Linked DNA regions of Homo sapiens: region 1 is linked to region 2. Evidence: fine-mapped expression QTL. A gene starts in region 2. The other region holds a variant in brackets. All regions are shown on one strand. Distances are from middle to middle.

Evidence for each region. PIP is the estimated chance that this variant, and not a neighbour inherited with it, causes the effect. A credible set is the group of variants that fine-mapping cannot tell apart.
Region 1: its variant is the best candidate, but not a certain one, in a credible set for the expression of SSH3 in monocytes (Quach 2016, PIP 0.55).

The regions. Positions count from the first base shown.
Region 1 is chr11:67,211,859-67,216,858 of GRCh38, forward strand. KDM2A (lysine demethylase 2A) reads left to right here. Exons shown (of 21, transcript NM_012308.3): 7 at 3,482-3,588; 8 at 3,998-4,091. Among named protein-coding and RNA genes, the nearest start is that of GRK2, 52 kb to the right of the region's middle. The variant A/ATTTTTTTT (reference allele first, on the strand shown) is at 2,349.
Region 2 is chr11:67,300,939-67,306,456 of GRCh38, forward strand. It overlaps SSH3 (slingshot protein phosphatase 3), which reads left to right and starts at 2,592. Exons shown (of 14, transcript NM_017857.4): 1 at 2,592-2,753; 2 at 3,180-3,217; 3 at 3,835-4,069. The coding sequence starts at 2,688. ANKRD13D (ankyrin repeat domain 13D) reads left to right here. Exons shown (of 15, transcript NM_207354.3): 11 at 52-209; 12 at 344-460; 13 at 550-713; 14 at 794-885; 15 at 1,181-1,546. The coding sequence ends at 1,394. RefSeq lists enhancers at 1,742-2,259, 2,260-2,779.

The DNA.
Region 1 (5,000 bases), 89 kb before region 2:
TTCATTTATCAGATGCCTACCACATGCTAAGCACTGTCTAGGTACTAGAGATACAGTGGAAAATGATATCATTCTTGTTAGAGACTCAAAGAAAGACAAGAAAATATGCATTTATATAAACTATAGTATGAGCAGTGCTTCAAAAGTGAATAAACAGCCAGGCAAAGTAGCACATGCCTTTAGTCCCAGCTACCTGGGAGGCTGTGGTGGGAGAATTGCTTGAGCCCAGGAGTTTGAGGCAGCCTAGGCAATGTGGCAAGACCCAGTCTTTTAAAATTAAAAAAATTGAATAAAGCAGGATATTGTGGAAGCATTTTGGAAGGATGACCTAATTTAGAAACTATAGGAGAATTAGGGGAAGCTCTTTGGAGGAAGTGGTGCCTAATGTTGACATAAAAGAAATAATGAAGCAAGGAGAGGGAGACCAGAATTACGGGCAGAAGGAATAGCATTTGTAAAAGTAGGTTCCGGGAGGTAAGAAGGGCAACTTTTACATGCCTGTTATAGGAGCTAGCATAAAGTAGAGTTCTATGGTGAGAAGAGATTATTTAGTGCTGCCATTCCAGCAATAACTGAGAGGTAGATTTTAAAATGGCACAAATAATACACATTTGTTTGGTGATGGGGAAATAAGTTCATGGAAGGCTATGAGTTGTTTATGAATAGACTAGGTTCATGATATTGGACTTCTTACCAGTTTGGCCCTAGTTTTGTTGCAGAACAGATTATAACTGGGATCAGAGTATTTAGCAAAGGATCTATCCCAAGGCTAAAGATTAACCTAAGAAGAAAAGCACGAACATGTTACCACAAATTCTCTCTGTAGTCTGAAGATACCTAATAATACCAAAGAAAGGCAGGCAAAAATGACTGACTTTCTTGCTGCAATTAAGAAATTCTGCTTTCTGTGAATGAATGCGTGGTAAAAAAAAAAAAAATACTCATATGTTCTGAACCGTTCCTCTCCCTATTCAGACATGGGAGCTTACAGCGTATTAAGCAAGTACTTTATTCATTATTCTGTTAAAGGCATTCCCATGGACAACACACGGGGATGGGAGATGGTGGCTACTACATTAAGAAACAGTAAATTTTATTTGAAGGAAAGAAAGGCATCCAGGGCTTATTCAATGTTCTGGGACCGGCGGATGCTTGGTTAAAATTGTTGGCTCCCTGAGCAGAAATTCTTTGAAATGGAACAGCAGGTTAACCTTAACCGTTGCTCCTCATCTTGTTTGTTTCTTCCATGTCAGTGGTGATGCTTTCTAAACACTCTCCCACAGTTAACATCTGGGTATCCTCTAGACAACTGCTTCATATCATGCACAACTTTATGCATTTGTCTCCATTCACATTATAAGGGAAGTAAGTGATCAAATACGTAGATGTTGTTACAAAGCTTACCAGATACATGTTTTTTATAACCATAAGTTAGATATTTACCACATCAGCACTGTGCTGAATTCATGGTGGTTTGGCTCTCGAGTTTTACCTACCTGGAGTTCATTGGTTGAGTGTAGACACTTGAAGGCACAGGAAATGTTATAATTTAGTGTAAAATGTTGCGTATTGCTTTCACTTCTCTTTTTTTTCAGCCAGTATTATTTAAAAGATTCCTGGCCGGGCATGGTAGCTCATGCTGTAATCCCAGCACTTTGTGGGGCTGAGGCTGGTGGATTGCCTGAGATCAGAAGTTCGAGACCAGCCTGGCCAAGATGGTGAAACCCTGTCTCTACTAAAAAATACAAAAATTAGTTAGGTGCGGTGGCGGGTGCCTGTAATCCCAGCTACTCAAGAGGCTGAGGCAGGAGAATTGCTTGAACCTGGGAGGCGGAGGTTGCAGTGAGCTGAGATCGCACCACAACATTATAGCCTGGGTGACAGAGCAGACCGTCTCAAAAAAAAAAAAAAAAAAGATTTCTGTATTCTCACATTATTTCAGATTTTAAAAGTGTTTACATTTAATCCTTACAACGTATCTTTGAAGTAGTTATCTTAGTTTTTTTGTGTTTTTGGGTTTTTTATTGAGACAGTCTTGCCCTGTTGCCCAAGCTGGAGTGCAGTGGTGATCGTAGCTTACTGCAGCCTCAACCTCCTGGGTTTAAGCAAACCTCCCATCTTAGCCTCACAAGTAGCTAGGACTATAGGCACATGCCACAACGCCTGGCTGTTTTTTTTATTTTATTTTATTTATTTTTTGAGACGGCGTTTCGCTCTTGTTTCCCAGGCTGGAGTGCAGTGGCACCATCTCGGCTCACCAGAACCTCCACCTCCTGGGTTCAAGCGATTCTCCTGCCTCAGCCTCCCAAGTAGCTGGGATTACAGGCATGCGCCACCATGCGCAGCTA[A/ATTTTTTTT]TTTTTTTTTTTTTTTGAGACGGAGTCTTGCTCTGTTACCCAGGCTGGAGTGCAGTGGCGCAATCTCGGCTCACTGCAAGCTCCGCCTCCCGGGTTCATGCCATTCTCCTGCCTCAGCCTCCCGAGTAGCTGGGACTACGGGCGCCCGCCACCACGCCTGGCTAATTTTTTGTATTTTTAGTAGAGATGGGGTTTCACCATGTTAGCCAAGATGGTCTCGATCTCCTGACCTCGTGATCCACCTGCCTCGGCCTCCCAAAGTGCTGGGATTACAGGCGTGAGCCACTGCACTGGGCCTAATTTTGTATTTTTAGTAGAGACGGGATTTCTCCATGTTGGTCAGGCTGGTCTTGAACTTCCGACCTCAGGTGATCCGCCTGCCTTGGCCTCCCAAAGTGTTGGGGATTACAGGTGTGAGCCACTGATCCCAACTATTTTTTTATTTTGAAGAGATGGGTTCTCACTGTGTTGCCCAGGCTGGTCTTAAACTCCTGGGTTCAAGTGATCTTCCCACCTTGGCCTTCCAAAGCTCTGGGATTGCAGGTGTGAGCCACTGTGCCTGGTCTATCTTAGTTTTATAGATGAGTTTGAGGGCCTTATATAGTCTTGAAAAGACATGATAGACCTGGAGCTTCTTATTCCTAAGCTGGTAGTTTCTATAGCACATTGTCAATGCAAGGCTATAAATCTATACTGGATTTTTTTCTTTTTTTTGGCCTAACTTTTGGCATCTTAACTGTTCTAACAATGGTATATATTTTGCTGAGTTTATAGATACCTTCCAGACAACACCTTTTATTGGATTAAAAAATAAAACAAATTATATAAGTATTGACATAGAAGAGAGTTCATAGTTATACACTATTGCATAATTAATGATTCCATTTTGACTAGTGCTGTCTTTACTATTATCATTTGATGGAATGATTAATCTTTATTCTCATATAACAATTATTTCTAGGATGGTTGCCTAGTAATCCTAAGATTCGCCAACAGATTTTTTTAATTTGCTTATAATTAAATTATAGTTTTTTGTTATGTATTTTAAGAAATTCTGCTTTTCTTGACTTTAAAATTATCTTTGACCCCAACCTTTCCCTTGGAGCCCAAGTGTTTCCTCCTTCTATTTAAAGGTGGATTTCATTGACTGGGTAGACAACATGTGGCCAAGGCACTTGAAGGAAAGCCAGACTGAATCAACAAATGCCATCTTGGAGATGCAGTACCCTAAAGTGCAGAAGTAAGTGATGCGCCCTGCATCTTCCTCCGTGTGCTGTGGGAGACCAAAGCAATAGCAAGGATTGGCTTCTCCCTTACGAGCTTTGCTCTGTGTCTTGAATGATTAAAAAGATGAATTATTTAAAGATGAGACTTTACAGTTCCACAAGGAAGAGTGTATGTGAGCATACCATAGCACACAACCACACAGTTAAAGGAAAAAAAACTTACATTTTAGTCAATACGGTAGAAAAAAAAAAAACCTTTTTCTGATAATGTGATGACTTGAAAATGCATTGCTTTTTCTCCTTCTGGAACTTAAGATTAAGTGGAAGATAAAGGGAGTATATAAGAGGAGAGTATGGCATTTTGGTGGGGCAGATGTACTTTTTTCCATCAGTACACTAATGCTGCTGCTTTTTTTGGGTCAGGTACTGTCTAATGAGTGTTCGAGGCTGCTATACTGACTTCCATGTGGACTTTGGTGGTACCTCTGTTTGGTATCACATCCATCAAGGGGGAAAGGTATGGTCATAGTTGTGATAGGGGTTGGAATCTGAAGTTGGTTGTATGACTTTGCTTCAGTTCATGTATACTTAATATACCCTGGAAATGAATCTGTTAGGGAATTGTCCCCATTCGTATCTGGAAAGAATTATAGATTAAGTTCACCTTCTTGGCTAGTGTTCAGTAGAAATTAGTATTCATCTAGTTCACTGTCATTACACCATTGGCACAGCACTTAGTAAATCTCAATAGTCCTGTTTCTAGATTCCTGAATCAGAGTTCTCCAAATGAAGCCAAAGAAGTGATTTTAGAAGGACAAGATAATTTCTGTACTTGGAAGTATAATAAATAGTGGAAGGGAACACGAATTTTGGATAGATTCACTGTGAAATCAGCAAATTAAGATCTAAACCAACTTTCCCTCTATGTAGCCATTGGTCTGAAATATGGCCAAAGGAAGCCTTTAAGTCCTTTTTGAGGATGTAAACAGGTTTTGAAGGATTATCTTTATTCATTCAGTTATATTCCAGCTTGTGAAAATGCTTCTGAATGCTATATGAGAATGGAAATCTAGAATTAATACCCGAGGTTTATAGTATTATACTCTTGTTACTCTTTTTTCTCTAACTTGCAGTGAATGCATTTGTAAGAGAAAAGTAGGAACTAGAATGAGAATAGATAATGCCTTGTTTAAAACATGAGGTCTTGGCCAGGCATGGTGGCTCACGCCTGTAATCCCAGCACTTTGGGAGGCCAAGGCGGGCGGATCAGCTGAGGTCAGGAGTTCAAGACCAGCCTGACCAACATGGAGAAAGTGCATCTCTACTAAAAATACAAAATTAGCTGGGTGTGGTGGTACATGCCTATAATCCCAGCTACTCGGGAGGCTGAGGCAGGAGAATCGCTTGAACCCACAAGGTGGAGGTT
Region 2 (5,518 bases):
TGGAAGGGCCACCAGCCGTGCCTCACCCATGTCCTGTGGTCGGCTGGGCAGGTTCAAGGCAACACTGTGGCTGAGTGAAGAGCACCCGCTCTCCCTGGGTGACCAGGTGACCCCCATCATCGACCTAATGGCCATCAGCAACGCTCACTTTGCCAAGCTGCGCGACTTCATCACTCTGCGCCTTCCACCTGGCTTCCCCGTCAAAATTGGTGAGAGGCTGGGCACAGGCAGCGGGAGGACCTCAGGCATGGCACCCTCCCTCAGCGCAGTCCCTGGAGAGCTGCAGGGGCCGGAGGCACAGGTGGCTCTCCGCCAGGGCTCAGGCGTGGCTGTCTTCTCACAGAGATTCCCCTTTTCCACGTGCTCAATGCCCGCATCACCTTCAGCAACCTGTGTGGCTGTGATGAGCCCCTGAGCTCCGTGTGGGTGCCGGCCCCCAGCTCTGCTGTTGCCGCATCAGGTACCCCAACGGGAGGAAGAGGGAGCCTGCACAGCTTTCTGGTCACCAAGCCCCGCGGGTTGAGCGTGGCCCCTCTGCCACCTGCCTAGGGAACCCTTTCCCGTGCGAGGTGGACCCCACCGTGTTTGAAGTGCCCAACGGGTACAGCGTGCTGGGCATGGAGCGCAACGAGCCCCTCCGGGACGAGGACGATGACCTCCTGCAGTTCGCCATCCAGCAGAGCCTGCTTGAAGCGGGCACTGAGGCGGAGCAGGTGGGACTTGCCCAGGGGGTGGGCTCTGGCCTCTGCAGCCACACGGCAGAAGTGACAGCTGTGGGCTCTGGTGGCTGCAGGTGACCGTCTGGGAAGCCCTGACCAACACCCGGCCCGGTGCCCGCCCTCCTCCCCAGGCCACGGTTTATGAGGAACAGCTTCAGCTGGAGCGGTGAGCCCCTCATGGGGCTGGCTGGGTCCCTGTCCCCCCAGCCCTGGCTTGGCGGGGAGGGGGATAGCAGGAAGGTGCTAGGACCCCAGGCCCTCTGCAAGGCCACCCTCTGTCAGCAGCGCTATCTGCCACCAAAGGTGGTGTGAGGGGTGGGGAAGCAGGGCCCTGCCTTGTCTCCTCTGCTTGCCACCCTGTCTTTGCCTTTGTCCTCCAAAGCCGGTCCCCAGCCCCTCGGCTTCTGCCCCAGCCTTGGCGCTCACTGGCCTGTTCTTCCCTCCCCTGCCCTGCCTGGAAGGGCCCTCCAGGAAAGCCTGCAGCTGTCCACAGAGCCCAGGGGCCCAGGATCCCCTCCCAGGACACCCCCAGCCCCCGGTCCACCCAGCTTTGAAGAGCAGCTGCGCCTGGCCCTGGAGTTGTCTTCACGGGAGCAGGAGGAGCGGGAGCGGCGCGGGCAGCAGGAGGAGGAGGACTTACAGCGGATCCTGCAGCTGTCACTCACTGAGCACTGAGCCATAGCCCCGGGAGGGCTGGCCAGGCCACTCCCTGCCCGCTTTTGTAATTTATTTATTTATAAACTCTCTGCTGCTGAGCTTGGGGCCTGGAGCCCCAGGAATGAGCAGGCAGGGGAGACTGAGATGGAAATAAAGAGACTGTCGCAGCAGGGCTGCTCTGCTCACTGGGCTGGAGCGGTGGGGACCCTGAAGGTGGGGCGCTGTGGAGAGGCACTGTGGATGGCGGCCTCAGACCTGGGCTTGAATCCTGGTCATGGTCCCCTTAGCCTATCTGAGCCTCAGTTTCTTCAGTTGTAAAATGAGGAGACCACCCCCCACCCTCCGCCCCTCAGGGCTGAAAGGAGCTGGCGAGAGTCACGTGTCCTTACCAAGCAGGCGTCCTGTGAAAGTCAGATCCCCTGTGCCCTGTCCCACCTGCTGGGGACCCGGTTCGTCCTGCCACCCAGCCTAGTCTTCTGGAAACCGGCCCACGTGCCTGCTGGGGAGGAAAAGCCTGGGTCCCCAGGCACCATTCACCTCCAGCTGGGAAGAGCCCCGACGCCGACCCCTGCAGCCAAGCCCAGGCCCTGGCCCTGACTGCGGCTTGTTCTCTGCGGGTGGGTTTGCGCAAGTCACTTCCGCCTGCGTAGCTGGAAGCCCTGCCCTGCTCGCCTCCGAGGTGGACCTGAGAGCCCCTCATGGGCTTCCTGGGTTATTTGTAAACCCCAGGCCGTTTTCCCCGGAAGCCTGTCTTCCAGTGGTTCCTGCGGAGTGGGAACGAGAAGGCCGACCAGCAGGGAGAAATGTTTGGGGTGGGGGCCCTTGGCCGAGGGCGCGCCGTGCCTGATCCTCTCTAGACCTGTCCCCCACCTCCCCACCTCAGCTCTGCCTCCCTAGGACCCGCCTCTGCAGGGCACAGGACGCTGGAGGCCCAGAACAGCTCAGGTGCTCCCGCTGGGCCGGCCCGGGCCGGGCGCTTCCTGGGAGGGGGACCAAACTCCCGGCCTTCAGCTCTTGCCCTCCGGGTCTCCGGGCTCCGCACCTGCGCCCGCCCCCGGCCTCGCCCCTGACCTGTGCCCAGGGGCTGGGCGGGCCGAACAGCGGAGACCGGAGGGGCGGGGCCCGGCCGCCCTGAGAAGCTCCGCGGGCCCGGCTGGGCGAGTGTCTGGCCCTTTAAGGGCCGCCCCCGAGGAGGTGCCAGGCCCGGGTGGCGCCGTCCGTCCTTCCTGGTCCTGCGGGTCCAGGACTGTCCGCGGGGTTGAGGGAAGGGGCCGTGCCCGGTGCCAGCCCAGGTGCTCGCGGCCTGGCTCCATGGCCCTGGTCACAGTGAGCCGTTCGCCCCCGGGCAGCGGCGCCTCCACGCCCGTGGGGCCCTGGGTGAGTGTGGTCCGGCCGTGGTGCCGCCCACGCAGTTGCTGCCCCGGCTTGGGAGCGCGTCCTGCCCGCCAGCGGGCTCCTCTCGAACGGGGACATGAGGAGGGGGCCCCGGGGCTCGGGCTGGAGGGCGCTGGGGGCCTCGAGGGTCTCTGGTACTGGCGCCGGGGCACAATCCAGAGCCCTGCGCGCCGCCCGGGCTGCGGAGGCCCCGATCTGAGCGCGCCCCCCGCCACACTCGGCGCCCACCCAGCCGACCTGGCCTTGGGCCGGGGCTCCACGGGGCCTCCCGGTGGGGCGTGGACTGGGGTGGGAAGACGATTGGCATCTGGCGCCTTTTCTGGCCTCCCCCAACTCTAGAATTCCTGAGAGAGGGGAGGGGACAGCCCTCCCCGCCCTCACCCTGCCCTGGGGCTGCTCTCTCCGCAGGACCAGGCGGTCCAGCGAAGGAGTCGACTCCAGCGAAGGTGAGCGCCACCTCCCCCACGCAGACACTTCCGTCTGCCCCGGGCCTGGCCACGGCCGTCCTGGGCTCCAGCTGCAGGGACAGAAAGCTCCCCGGAGGACGCGCAGCGAAGCCCACTGCCAAATTTGTGGGGCAGCGTTCCCGGTGGGGCCGGCTGGTGGGCTCGCGGTAGGGCGGCCTTTGCCTTCACCCTCCCCCTGGTCAGCTGGGGCTTCCTCATCCACTGCCCTGGGCTTTGGCTCAGGTGGTGGCCACGGGCCGAACGGCAGGAGGGCATGATGGGCCTGAGGACTCCTGGGTCCCCGACCATGTTCCCAGCAGCACTTGAGTTAAACAGGTGGGAGGGGAAAAGGAGCAGCCCCCTCTCCCCACAGATGAGCTAGAGTAGAGGGGCTGAGAGCTTGGAAGCCCCCAAGACTGGTTCTCAGCAATATTGCCAAGGGGCCGAGGGGTTAGAAATGCAGATGCTCAGGCCTCCACTCTAGACCTATCGACCGCGTGGGGGCCCATGAATCCGTGTAGACAAGGGCTGCAGGTGAATGTGATGCATGCTAGACTTTGAGAGCCCCTACCCTAAGGGGAATGAGGAGCCATGACAGTTGCCCACTGCCCTGCCAGGCAGAGCTTTGCGGTGCTCCGTGGGGCTGTCCTGGGACTGCAGGATGGAGGGGACAATGATGATGCAGCAGAGGCCAGTTCTGAGCCAACAGAGAAGGCCCCGAGTGAGGAGGAGCTCCACGGGGACCAGACAGACTTCGGGCAAGGATCCCAGAGTCCCCAGAAGCAGGAGGAGCAGAGGCAGCACCTGCACCTCATGGTACAGCTGCTGAGGCCGCAGGATGACATCCGCCTGGTGAGGGCCCATGTGGAGCTCCGGGGGGTGGGGGGAAGAGACACGCCTGAGGGCAGAATGGAGCCCTGTGTATGTGTCTGCTTGGGGAGCAATGGTGTGAGGGCAGGGGGCAGCCTGGGGAGTGTTGGGGTTACCCATATCCCAGTGACCCTGCTGTTTCAGGCAGAGATGTTTTGTTTTTTGTTTGTTTTTTTTTTGAGATGGAGTCTCGCTCTGTTGCCCAGGCTGGAGTGCAGTGGCGTGATCTCGGCTCACTGCAAGTTCCACCTCCCGGGTTCACACCATTCTCCTGCCTCAGCCTCCCGAGGAGCTGGGACTACAGGCACCCGCCACTATGCCTGGCTAATTTTTTTTGTATTTTTAGTAGAGATGCGGTTTCACCGTGTTAGCCAGGGTGGTCTCAATCTCCTGACCTCGTGATCCGCCTGCCTCGGCCTCCCTAAGTGCTGGGATTACAGGCGTGAGCCACCGCGCCCGGCCTGGGCAGAGATATTTTGACAGGGCGAGGTCATGGCTGCAGGTCTCTGGAAGGGAAAGAACAGGGGAGGTTTGTCCTGTGTGAGCCAATAGGGCCAAATTAGGTCCAAGGGGTGGGAATTCCAGAGGCATGTTTCTCCTCAACCAGTAGAAGACTTTCCTGATGATGTGAGCTGTCCCTAAATGGACCAGTGCACAAGGCAGGCTTGCTGGACACACACTGGGGGAGGGTGTGCTAGAGGGACCCAGGCAGAGGGGAGGAGGACTCCAGCCCCACGGAGGAAGGGAGTCCAGGTGGAGCTGGAGCGCTCATGCTCAAATACTTGTGGAGACAGCTCGCCGTCCTCAGCAAGACGTGGCAAACAAGATGCAGTGAATCTTTGGTAAAACTGAATTTACAACAGAAGTATCATCCCCTATCGTGAGATTTTGTCCTTAATATTTCTTTGGTGATAAACATTTCTCAAATGAAATGATAGCATTTGCAAGTGACAGGGTAAAAAAAAAACAACAAAAAAAAACTGGCCGGGCGCGGTGGCTCATGCCTGTAATCCCAGCACTTTGGGAGGCCGAGGCGGGCAGATCACGAGGTCAGGAGATCGAGACCATCCTGGCTAACACGGTGAAACCCCGTGTCTACTAAAAACACAAAAAATTAGCCAGGCGTGGTGGCGGGTGCCTGTAGTCCCAGCTACTCGGGAGGCTGAGGCAGGAGAATGGCGTGAACCCGGGAGATGGAGTTTGTAGTGAGCTGAGATTGCGCCACTGCACTCCAGCCTGGGTGACAGAGCAAGACTCCATTGCAAAAAAAAAAAAAGAAAAAACCTCCTTCTTGCTGGGCACAGTGGCTCACGCCTGTAATCCCAGCACTTTGGGAGGCTGAGAAGGGAGGATTGCCTGAGTCCAGGAGTTCAAGACCAGCCCAAGAAACATAGGGAAGATCTCATCTCAACAAAAAACTTAAAAATTATC